Homo sapiens: one gene and its partners. The protein of the gene in region 2 interacts with the protein of the main gene of each other region in a pairwise test. Each region holds a gene or a part of one and is shown on either strand. Other genes may lie near its edges. The genes, in order: PPM1F, AATK and PTPRR.

Evidence for each region.
Region 1: the proteins of AATK (region 2) and PPM1F interact in a two-hybrid assay, tested with the Homo sapiens proteins (one study listed by BioGRID and IntAct).
Region 3: the proteins of AATK (region 2) and PTPRR interact in a two-hybrid assay, tested with the Homo sapiens proteins (one study listed by BioGRID and IntAct).

The regions. Positions count from the first base shown.
Region 1 is NC_000022.11:21,942,709-21,946,362, forward strand, and holds part of PPM1F (protein phosphatase 1F), read right to left. Parts: intron 3,401-3,654; 5' UTR 3,341-3,400; coding exon 3,135-3,340; intron 727-3,134; exon of another isoform or gene 1-726. UniProt on the Homo sapiens protein: Dephosphorylates and concomitantly deactivates CaM-kinase II activated upon autophosphorylation, and CaM-kinases IV and I activated upon phosphorylation by CaM-kinase kinase. Promotes apoptosis.
Region 2 is NC_000017.11:81,118,892-81,121,258, forward strand, and holds part of AATK (serine/threonine-protein kinase LMTK1), read right to left. Parts: coding exon 1,310-2,367; intron 1,193-1,309; coding exon 1,045-1,192; intron 690-1,044; coding exon 489-689; intron 1-488. UniProt on the Homo sapiens protein: May be involved in neuronal differentiation.
Region 3 is NC_000012.12:70,889,728-70,893,381, reverse strand, and holds part of PTPRR (receptor-type tyrosine-protein phosphatase R isoform 1 precursor), read left to right. Parts: intron 1-404; coding exon 405-703; intron 704-3,654. UniProt on the Homo sapiens protein: Sequesters mitogen-activated protein kinases (MAPKs) such as MAPK1, MAPK3 and MAPK14 in the cytoplasm in an inactive form.

The DNA of each region.
Region 1 (3,654 bases), on a different chromosome or scaffold from region 2:
GGGCCACCATCGTCCTCTTCCTGGACACAGCTCCCGCCTCATCCCAGGGTCTGGCCTGGGACACGCCCTAGAGGCCCTCAGCCCTGAGTCACTGCACCATGCAGATCCACCCTGATTCTGGTCCCTGCAGAGCAGGCTCCTACACAAGGCAAGAAGATGCTCCAGGGACAAGCCAAGGTGTATGCAAGGCCCAGGTGCCTGAGAAACACGTCTCACCGACCTTGGGGCAGGGGCTGTTACAAGAGGCTTATAGTCTAGTGGCAGAGACAAAAACCACACTCAAATCATTAGTGTACGGTATGCACTGCTCAGGGACTCAAATATGTGACAGGAGGCTCCAAACAAGAGCGGAGACAAGGCGTAAATAGCCCCCTGTGGACTGGATGTTCTGACTCCTGGATGGCCTCCAGAAGGATGCCTTTTACGGTCTGTGAAAGAGCTCAGGGACCAAGATGCTCAAAGCCCTTCATGCCCAAGAGCCCCTCCTCAGGCTGGGACACGGGAAGCAGAGCTCGGAGGTGGAACTCGTGACTGTGTATGGGCACATGTGAGTGCGTGTGTGTGGACAGCCAGGCTTAGTGTAGACAACGTGTGAGGCTCAGACCCCAAGTGCTGACTACACCTATGCACATCCACACCTGCGTGTGAAAGAAGATGCTAGAAAAGAACAAAAATAACTTAAAAAATAAATCCAATAAGATGGCTGGAACATATAACAACTTCAAATACTCCATTTTAGTTCACCATGTAAGGTGGGTTCCTGGGGGCTGAGGAGACTCGGGAGCTCTGCACCCCTCCTGCTCGCACCCATCACTAGGTGGCTCACACAGCAGCCGCTCAACAAGTCTGGCTGCTCTCGCATCAAAACCAAAACCCACTGCCCTCCCCTGCGCCCCCAGCACTGACCCCAACACTTTGGTTCGGGGCCCTCCTGGGCAGGTCACCTGCACTGCCTACTCACTCCTCAGCCCTCCAGGCCCTCCCACCTTGGATCCTTCCCTGGGACCCTGCTCTGCGCCCTTCTCCCCCTGCCCAGGAACTGAAGGCTGATGTTGTCACCCCGGTGCTGCGGCCTGTCCGTCTTCAGCACCTGTGCCCCACGCAGGCCCAGCAAACCCCTGGGCTCTGTTGTTCCCCGGGATGGCTTTTCCATCTGATCCCCAGCTTGGGGCTGGCACCGCTTGGCTTTGCCCGGTCACCTCATGCTTGGGCCAAAGTGCACCAACCCTTCTGTCCCGGGCCTGGCTTTTTGCCTCAAGGCAGCAATGGCCCCATGCCACCTCCACGAAGACCCAGTGGCTGCAGAACTCCCTGGTCTGGACTCCCCTGCTCCCTGCAGAGTGCCACCTGCTCCTCTCAAGAAGGCAGAACGTGAGGCCTTTCCTCACCTCCCGTGCATTGGCACCCCTGCTGGGCCCACTCTGCTCCACCACTGGGGGCTGATTCACTTTGTGCCACATATCTAAAATATTTCCTCAAAACAAGCCAATAACACCCTTTGCGCATGCCATGACCTCATGGAGCGTGGTCACCGGACATTTCCTCCTGAGCTCTAGGCAGCTGTGGGGGATGCTGGGTGGCATAGCCCTTGCATGTGGCTGACACTTAGCAATGTTTGTGCCCATGTTGCACAGGGAGAGCACAAGTCACTGACTCTGCTAGGGCCTGGGGTCAAGGAAAATAGGCCCTTGGTGGGTGTCAGGAACAGAGTTGATTCGCTGCAAGGGGCAAAGGAAGTGCACACTTGGGGGATACTGAGGCAGCCACCGAGGATGGTGGCTCTGTCAGAGGGAGCTATGGCTGAGGGCCTGTCATGGCTTCAGGTGATATTTCAGGTGATTTGGGTGATGCTGGGACTGGGGACCATGCGCACATCCCCTCAGCAAGGGACTAGGTTCACAGAAACAGCACGCGGCCCACCAGCCTGCTCACCTCCATGAGCTGTCCCCTGTGCCAGACAGACAGCCTAACTCCAAGACCCTGTCTGAGCAGAGAGGGTTCGAGAAAAGACCTTGTCCTTCACCATCTTTCATGGGACAAATGCTTCCAGAATGAATGAATAAATGAAGGGGAGGGCAAGGGTCTTCCAAGGAAAGGACCTCTGAGTTCAGCCTAGGCGACAGCTACACACTGTCTGCCGGTGGACACCCAACTCTCTATCTTCCCCGAAATCTGCTCGGCTAGTTGTGCTACCTCTCTGTGCCTCAGCTTCCTCACCTGTGGAAGGGGGACAGTGCCAGCTATCTCTCAGATCGTGGTGGCTGGGGTGCCATGTGGCTCTGCCACTCCTTGACTGTAAGGCCTCAGGCCAGCCTCTTCATCTACCCACCTCTGCCTCCTCGTCCATCACACGGATCGGAAACAGGACGTACTGCTTATCAGCTGCTATGCAATAAATTGTGTTCCCTAAAAGGTATGTTGAAGCCCCAGCCCCCTGTGGCTCAGAATATGATCTTATTTGGAGTTAAAGTCTTTGCAAATGTAATTAGTTATGTTCACATGAGGTCACATTGGCTGGAGTGGCTCATGCCTGTAATCCCAGCATTTAGGGAGGCAAAAACATGAGGATCCATGGAGCCCAGAAATTCGAGACCAGCCTGGGCAGCATAGCGAGACCCCATTCTCCACAAAAAGAAAGATGAGATCACACTGTAGGAGGGCAGCCCCTGGTCCAAAATGCCCATGTCCTTACAAGAGGAGGAGTCACAGACACACAGCAGGCAGGGTGGGGAGGTGTGAAGGCACAGACACACACATGGGGAGATGCCGTGTGCAACAAGGCCAGCTAGGAGGAATGAGTCTACAAGCCAAGGACCTCCAGGAAGTCAAGGCCAGGCACTAACAGAAAGGCAGACTCTTCCCTGCAGCCTTTGAGAGAGCATGGCGCAGCTGCCACCTTGATCTTGGACTCTGGCCTCCAGCCCTGTGAAAGAATGAGCTTTGGCTGTGTTGAGTGCCCAGTGTGTGGTGCTTTGCCATAGCAGCCACGGGAGTTCCACATGGTGCTGCATAGGGATCCGGGGCTGCAGATCCCCGTGTGGGGCTGGACGTGTAGGGGAGCAGCAGCCACATCCCTTGTCGGCCCTGGTGCCGTGCCCTTACTCCCCGTCCCCTTTGGGGGTGCACAGGCCTACCTGCTGCCCAGAAAGCCCATGGCCAGCTCAGCCAGCTCGCCCTCCACCTCCTCCTGGCTGAGCACCGTCCCTGGGGCCTTCCATGGCAGAGGGTCCTCTGGGTTCAGCAGGGCTGGGAAGTCTTGCAGGAGCGTGTCCAGGAAGCCTGGGGTCTCCTCAGCTCCACTGGCCATTGGGCTGCTCTTCTGTGGGGCTCCAGAGGACATGCCCAAAGCATCCCGGGGGCCTGCAGCTAGGCCAGGGCAAGAGGGTCTCCAGGCTTCACCCTGGGGAGAAATGTCAGAGTCAGCAGAATCAGGGGGCCATGGCACCAGCAATGCAGGTGCCCACCTGCAAGCACCATGTGGCAGGTGCATGGCCTCATGGTTCAGGGCCACTAGAGGGTGGAGGGACAACCCTGGCCACTGTTTTGACATGAGTCCAGGTGGGGACTTGTGGGCATCCAGAGATCCGGTCTCAGGAGATGGTGCCAGGAGCAGCAGCTGGGTGGACATTGTCAAGAAGTGACAGAGGAGGAAGA
Region 2 (2,367 bases):
GCTGTAGGGGTAGGGACACCTGGCAGAGATGAGCCCAGCCTGGGGTGGGGCGGATAGTGGAGGGCCATGGCCGGGAGCGGTGGCTCAGGCCCCCAGCAGGGCTCCACCTGGGCACCGTGGGGCCGGGGCACCGTGGGACCTGGGTCTGCAGGGACTTCTGGCTGGGAAGGTTCCGGTGAGAGGGCCTGCCGCAGGTCTGCGGGGTAGGGTCAGGCAGAGGAGAGCCGAGTGCAGGGGCCAGGTGAGGGCCAGGTGAGGGTCAGGTGAGGGTCAGGTGAGGGTCAGGTGAGGGTCAGGTGAGGGCCAGGCGAGGGCCAGGCGGGGTCCAGGCTAGGTCTGGGGCCGGGAAGGAGCGGGGCCGGGAAGGAGCGGAGCGGAGCGGAGCCGGGGCTGGCCCGGCCCAGGACCTAGACGGAGGGGCCCCACCCTCGGAGCTCCGTGCCCTGCCTCCCGCGTGCCCTTCTGCCACAGCCCCGCCCAGGCCTCACCTCTCTTGGACTCGGCGTCCGAGTCAGACACGTGCGTGATGGAGAAGCGGGACGTGGGCGCGGGCGACACCGTGAAGCGCGAGAAGGGAGCGGGCGTGGGCGTGGGCGCAGCCGGGGCGGGTGCGGCCGGGTCTAGGGCCATGGCGAAGGCTGCCTTGGCCGTCATCAGCGGGAAGTCGTCGTCCCACGCGAACCCACCACCTGCAGCCCAGGTCGCGGCGTCACTCGCGCTCACAGCCTGGGACCCCGGCCCGGCCCCGCTCCCACAGTCACGGGCCCAGGCCCCGCCTCCCATCATGTCACGGGCCCAGGCCCCGCCTCCCATGATGTCACGGGCCCAGGCCCCGCCTCCCATGCAGCACGGACAAGGCCCCGCCTTCCGTGACGTCACGTACCAGACCCGCCTCCCATGACGACACGGGCCAAAGCCCGCCTCCCACGCGTCAAGGACCAGGTGCTCCTCCCATGATGTCACACATTAGGCCCCGCCTCCCACACAGCACGGACCAGGCCCTGCCTCCCGTGACGTCACGGGCCCAGCCCCGCCCCTGCTCACCCTCTTCCGCTGTGGAGCCATTTGGGGAGCCATCAGCCTGCTGCGGCCGGTTGGGGGCGCTGGGAGAGCCGGGGCTCCCCCTAAGGAACGTAGGGGGCGATTCCTTGGCGCCCGGGAAGGGCTCCCCGAGCTCCCGGGTGGGGCTTTCCTGGAGGAATCAGAGAGCACCAGGTAGCTCGGCCGCCAGGAGCCGCGGCCGCTCCCACCCCTTCCTGCGGGAGCGCGACCCCCAGCCCCGGGCAGACCCCGGGTGGCGGCGGCCCACCTGGTCAAAGAGGTAGACGGTGACGTCGTCGAAGAAGGACACGGCCTTCTTCTTGCGTTCCAGGTCCTCGCAGAAGGTCTCGGACAGCAGGCTGGGCATCTTGAGCAGGCTGCGCAGGTTGCGCGCGCTCTGGCTCTCAGCCACCACCACGGGCACCGCCGGCGCCTCCTCTTCGCTGTCCTCGCTAGGCTCCTGGACGCTGTAGCAGCGGAGCTCCTCGTCAGACTCGTCGCTGTCCTCACTGTCCTCCTCCTCCTCCTCCGGCCGGCCCTCCAAGGCCGCAGGGAGGCCGGGCAGAGCCAGGCGGAGTGGGGCTCTGGGGGTGCCTGGGCCCCCCATCCGCTTTTGTGGGGCCGGCCCTGACAACAGTCCTGGGGGCCCCTGGAACTCAGAGCTGTTGCCTTCTGATCTCAGCGGAACCGGGGTCAGCAGGAAAAACTGGGAGCAGCTGGGGCTGGGCCCAGGCCGCACCTTGGCTGGGCCTTGGGGCTCCGGAGGCTCTGGGACCAGGCCCGAGGGGCAGGTGCTGGGCTCTGGGGAGGACCCTTCAAGCTGCAGCAGTGGGGGCAGCACCTCCCCGGGGCCAGAGCCTTGTGCCTCCCCGGAAACCCCAGGCCTGAGACAGACCTGCTCAGACGGCTGCCCAGTGCTCGGCAGGCCCAGCTCTGGCCCGGGGGCTCGGTCCCCGCCGCACTTCTTCTCTGGGCCTGAGGTGGCCTCGGCCTCAGCCTCGAGGTCTGAGAAGTAGGCAGAGTCTCGGTAGGGATTCTTCTCGTTGAGGCCACTGAGGGAGGTGGAGAGCCGTGTCTCGGGCCCGGGGCCCTCACCCTCTGAGGCCAGCTCCGCAAAGGCCTGGGGCTCACACCCTTCCTGCGCCTCCTTGAGCACAAACTCAGGGGACTCATAGTTCTCGGTGTCATAGCCACTGTCCAGCGCTCGCGGCTGCCCTCCAGAGGGGCCAGTGGCCGACGGGCTGAAGACCTCATAGCCACCATCACTGGCTGAGGACGGGATGTCCAGGGAGTCCAGGGAGTCGGGGGTCCCCACCTGCTTCTGCA
Region 3 (3,654 bases), on a different chromosome or scaffold from region 2:
TAGGAAATGCTTATATTTAAGGAAAGCTTAAATATGATAAAAATATTTATAATTTCAGCAGCAGATAGGACATCCAGGAATAGAAGCCCAAGTAGGTATTGAAACTATGGGTGTAGATAAAGGAGGAAATTTCTTAGTAAAAGTGGCATCAGAATATCTGAAAAATAGAACTTTTTCAAAGTACGCCCACTTTTATCCACCTAAAGTCTTTGAGAGGCCTTCATACCACCAGGTGTATACTATTTGTTGAGGATCATGAAGCAGACAAAGAAATATGGAGACTAACCTAAATCCTTCACAAGTCTTAAAGCCTCTCAAGAAAGGGTAATCCTCTTCATCAGATATATCTACCTCTCTTACTGAATAGGGTCTTTGATATTGTTTCTGCTTCTTCCCTCTTTCAGGGTGCTTTTCAGGAAACAATGATCATTTTTTGGCAATTAATCAGAAGAAGAGTGGGAAGCCGGTATTCATTTATAAGCATTCACAAGACATTGAGAAGAGCCTGGATATAGCCCCACAAAAAATCTACAGACATAGCTACCATTCCTCTTCCGAAGCTCAAGTAAGCAAACGCCACCAGATTGTCAATTCAGCATTTCCTAGACCCGCATATGACCCGTCTCTCAATCTGCTGGCCATGGATGGTCAAGATCTTGAAGTGGAAAATCTCCCAATCCCAGCAGCAAATGTAATTGTGGTGGTAAGTAGTATGTTAAACTGATGCTGAGGCTGATGTTGATTCTTTCCTGTCATTGATGCTTGAAAAAAGAAAAACACTGATTGTGAATAGTTATCAATGAATCCCAACGGGTATGTACCACAGCACTTATTCTGTGGTACTTCTAATTTCTTACTTGACTGTTGTCTGTTTTCTTCCTCTTACGAAATCAGAAAACTTGTCTGTATCCTCCGCTCATAGCAGAATGCATGGTACATGGTAGATGCTTAATAAATATTTGAATAAAAGATTACTTTAGGAAGGCCTTACAATTATAGTTGATTATATCTTGTACTGAGCCTCCTACCTTCTGTGAGAATCTGTTTTAAGCAGATAGGCCTTAGTCTCAGCCTGTGTAAATAAATAATACTTATTGAAGATCCTCTGGTCACTTGACTCAAATTACAATAAATAAGACAACTGAAAGGGGAGGTGTGGTAGAGGGAGAGTAGTTTTCTGTCACTGGAGCAAATAAAATGAGTTGGGAGTAATTGATAGATAACATTTTTGATATTACTGAATAATAACCATTCTTTATTAATAAAAGTGATACAATGATCCCATTGCTTATGTTCTTAAAGTTCCCTTGCTTGTATAACCCAGGTCAGAGGTTTCCAAATTGTGGAGGTTATCATAGTTTAAATACATACTGAGGTTGACACCCTATTTGAACTACAGTCACTCTCTGGTTTAACATCATTATAGAAGGATCCACATTGAAACTACAAATCAGTAGTTAAATGGTTGTTATTGCATCTCTGCTCCAAAATATAATCAAATGAGTTGATTTGTGTGGCCAAGATAATTCAATGAAACCATGTTTGCATTTTGGCAACTCCTCTATGCACCAAATGTAATTAAATCTAACAAGCTTCTTTTTTTTCTTTATTTTTTTAACCTACTACATATAGTATACTTTACTTAATATTGAGAATCAAAGTTCCATTCGTCAATGTTTTCAGCTAGCATACACTCAGTATTTATTATGATCTAGTTTCCCCTTGGGATATCTGGAAACAGAGACAAATGAAATACAGTCTCTTGTTTTGCTTGGAAAATGTCCAGAGGGAAATATCAATAATTCAATAAAAATCATAAGCTAAGAACACAAGATGAACTCTTGTTAAGAGAAAATATGTGGGTCACTTGGCATCCTGAAATACTTGAACAAGTTTTCTGCATTTACATGAGTAGCAGATGTTCTGAAGGTGAAAGTCATGTACTCTGTCTATTCAGTGAAGATAAATGATGTTAATGATGTCTCTGTATCTGGAGATGCTCCTGTTAATGCTAGGGCTCATGGGAGATATTTCCTTAGTGACCATCATATACCCATAGTCATCAACTCTTAAAGTCACTGTGAATTACAGTTCAAGAGGCTTGTTCTATCTTGTAATGTCATGTACTGTCTAGTTAATTTAATATCATGGACAATAAAAGGCACCAATGAGGAATTCTGGCAGGTCATTTCACTTTCAGCTTATTTGTGGTTTGGAGATTGATGAAGAAGCTGTGCTTTTCCTTTGGGGTGATGATTACATAGAGGCAATAGGCAATTTTGCTGCATTAGCTTTCCCTAGCCTCTGACCATGCTGTGGCTTTGGTAGCTGGCAACACCAATTGCCAGTCCTAATGTTTCCTGCAATCCACTTAGATTACTTATGTGCATGATGATTTAGCAGCAAAACTGGGGAGGCAGGGTTATTTTTTAAATAAATCAATAATGTTTAGCTTCCTCAAAAAGCAAAGGGGTGATGCAATTAAATGTCAGCTGATTTGAAGACCCATTCCATACAGAAAATGGATGTATGGATGGGGCATACAGGAAGCAAGGGATATATTCTGGGGCAGCATAATGACTTTAATGGAATAATTGATGTGTGTTTGTGCTTATCATATGTACATGAGTATAAAACATATACATCAATGCAGACCTTCTTGTTTGAGGGATATTGCAGTGGTACTAAGAATTATTTTGAGACTTAATTTATACTCAAATAGACCATGTTCTGACTATCAGTGTCTTGAACTGGAGAAATTATAGGCATTTTTTTTCCAGCCAGGGTAAAAAGCTACACTCAACCTCTAAACTTTATATGTAACTTCTAAGACTTCCTAGCTCAGAAGGAAGGATCAAGCATTTTTCCTCCAATACTTTTTTCTTTCTTGTTTCAACTATCATTGGCAATGAGTTTTAGAATGCTACCTTTAAAAAGGGCATGAAAGTTGTGTCTCTCCTCCCTTCCTGATTCCCAATTGCCACCGCAAAGCATTTCATAAGAGCATTTATCCACAAATGAATTTTTTCCCTCTTTCTTCTTTTTATTAGTAATCAGGAAAATTTATAGTTTATTTGTTACAAGGAGAGTACAACACAATTAGAATGTTTATCCCAAATAATGCTAACTATGTTCCGGAACTCAATTAAGAAGCTGTTATTAGGATTTCTGTGCAAGTACAATGTAGAGAAGATATTGAATGCCTCAAGGTCAGTACTATGGTAAGAGGAAAAAAATACCGCTTTAGATGAAAGTATGCTGTAAAATCCATAGCTCTTGTCACTGGATCCTCAGGATATTTGTCAAGACACAAGGCCACAACACCAGGAAGGAGGGAACCCAGAGGTGCAAGTGAAAATGGTGGAATGGTAGCAACTACAGGCCATTTCAGTTCAGCATAGGCTGCTGAGTGAAGAATGTTCTAGCCTGGACAGAAATCTGAGCAAACTGAGGATTAGTAAGGCTTGGGAATATAAGGGGTGGTTTTTGACATCAGTGAAACGGCATGGAAATGGGAAGATTATGATTTACTCTGTGAGATGGACTCATGGGTAAGAAAAATAAAGGAAAGGAGAAGATGGAGGAGAAGAAACAGGAAGAAGAGCAGCAGGAGAAGGAAAGGAGGCAAGGAAAGAAGGGAAAAAGAAGCGGGGG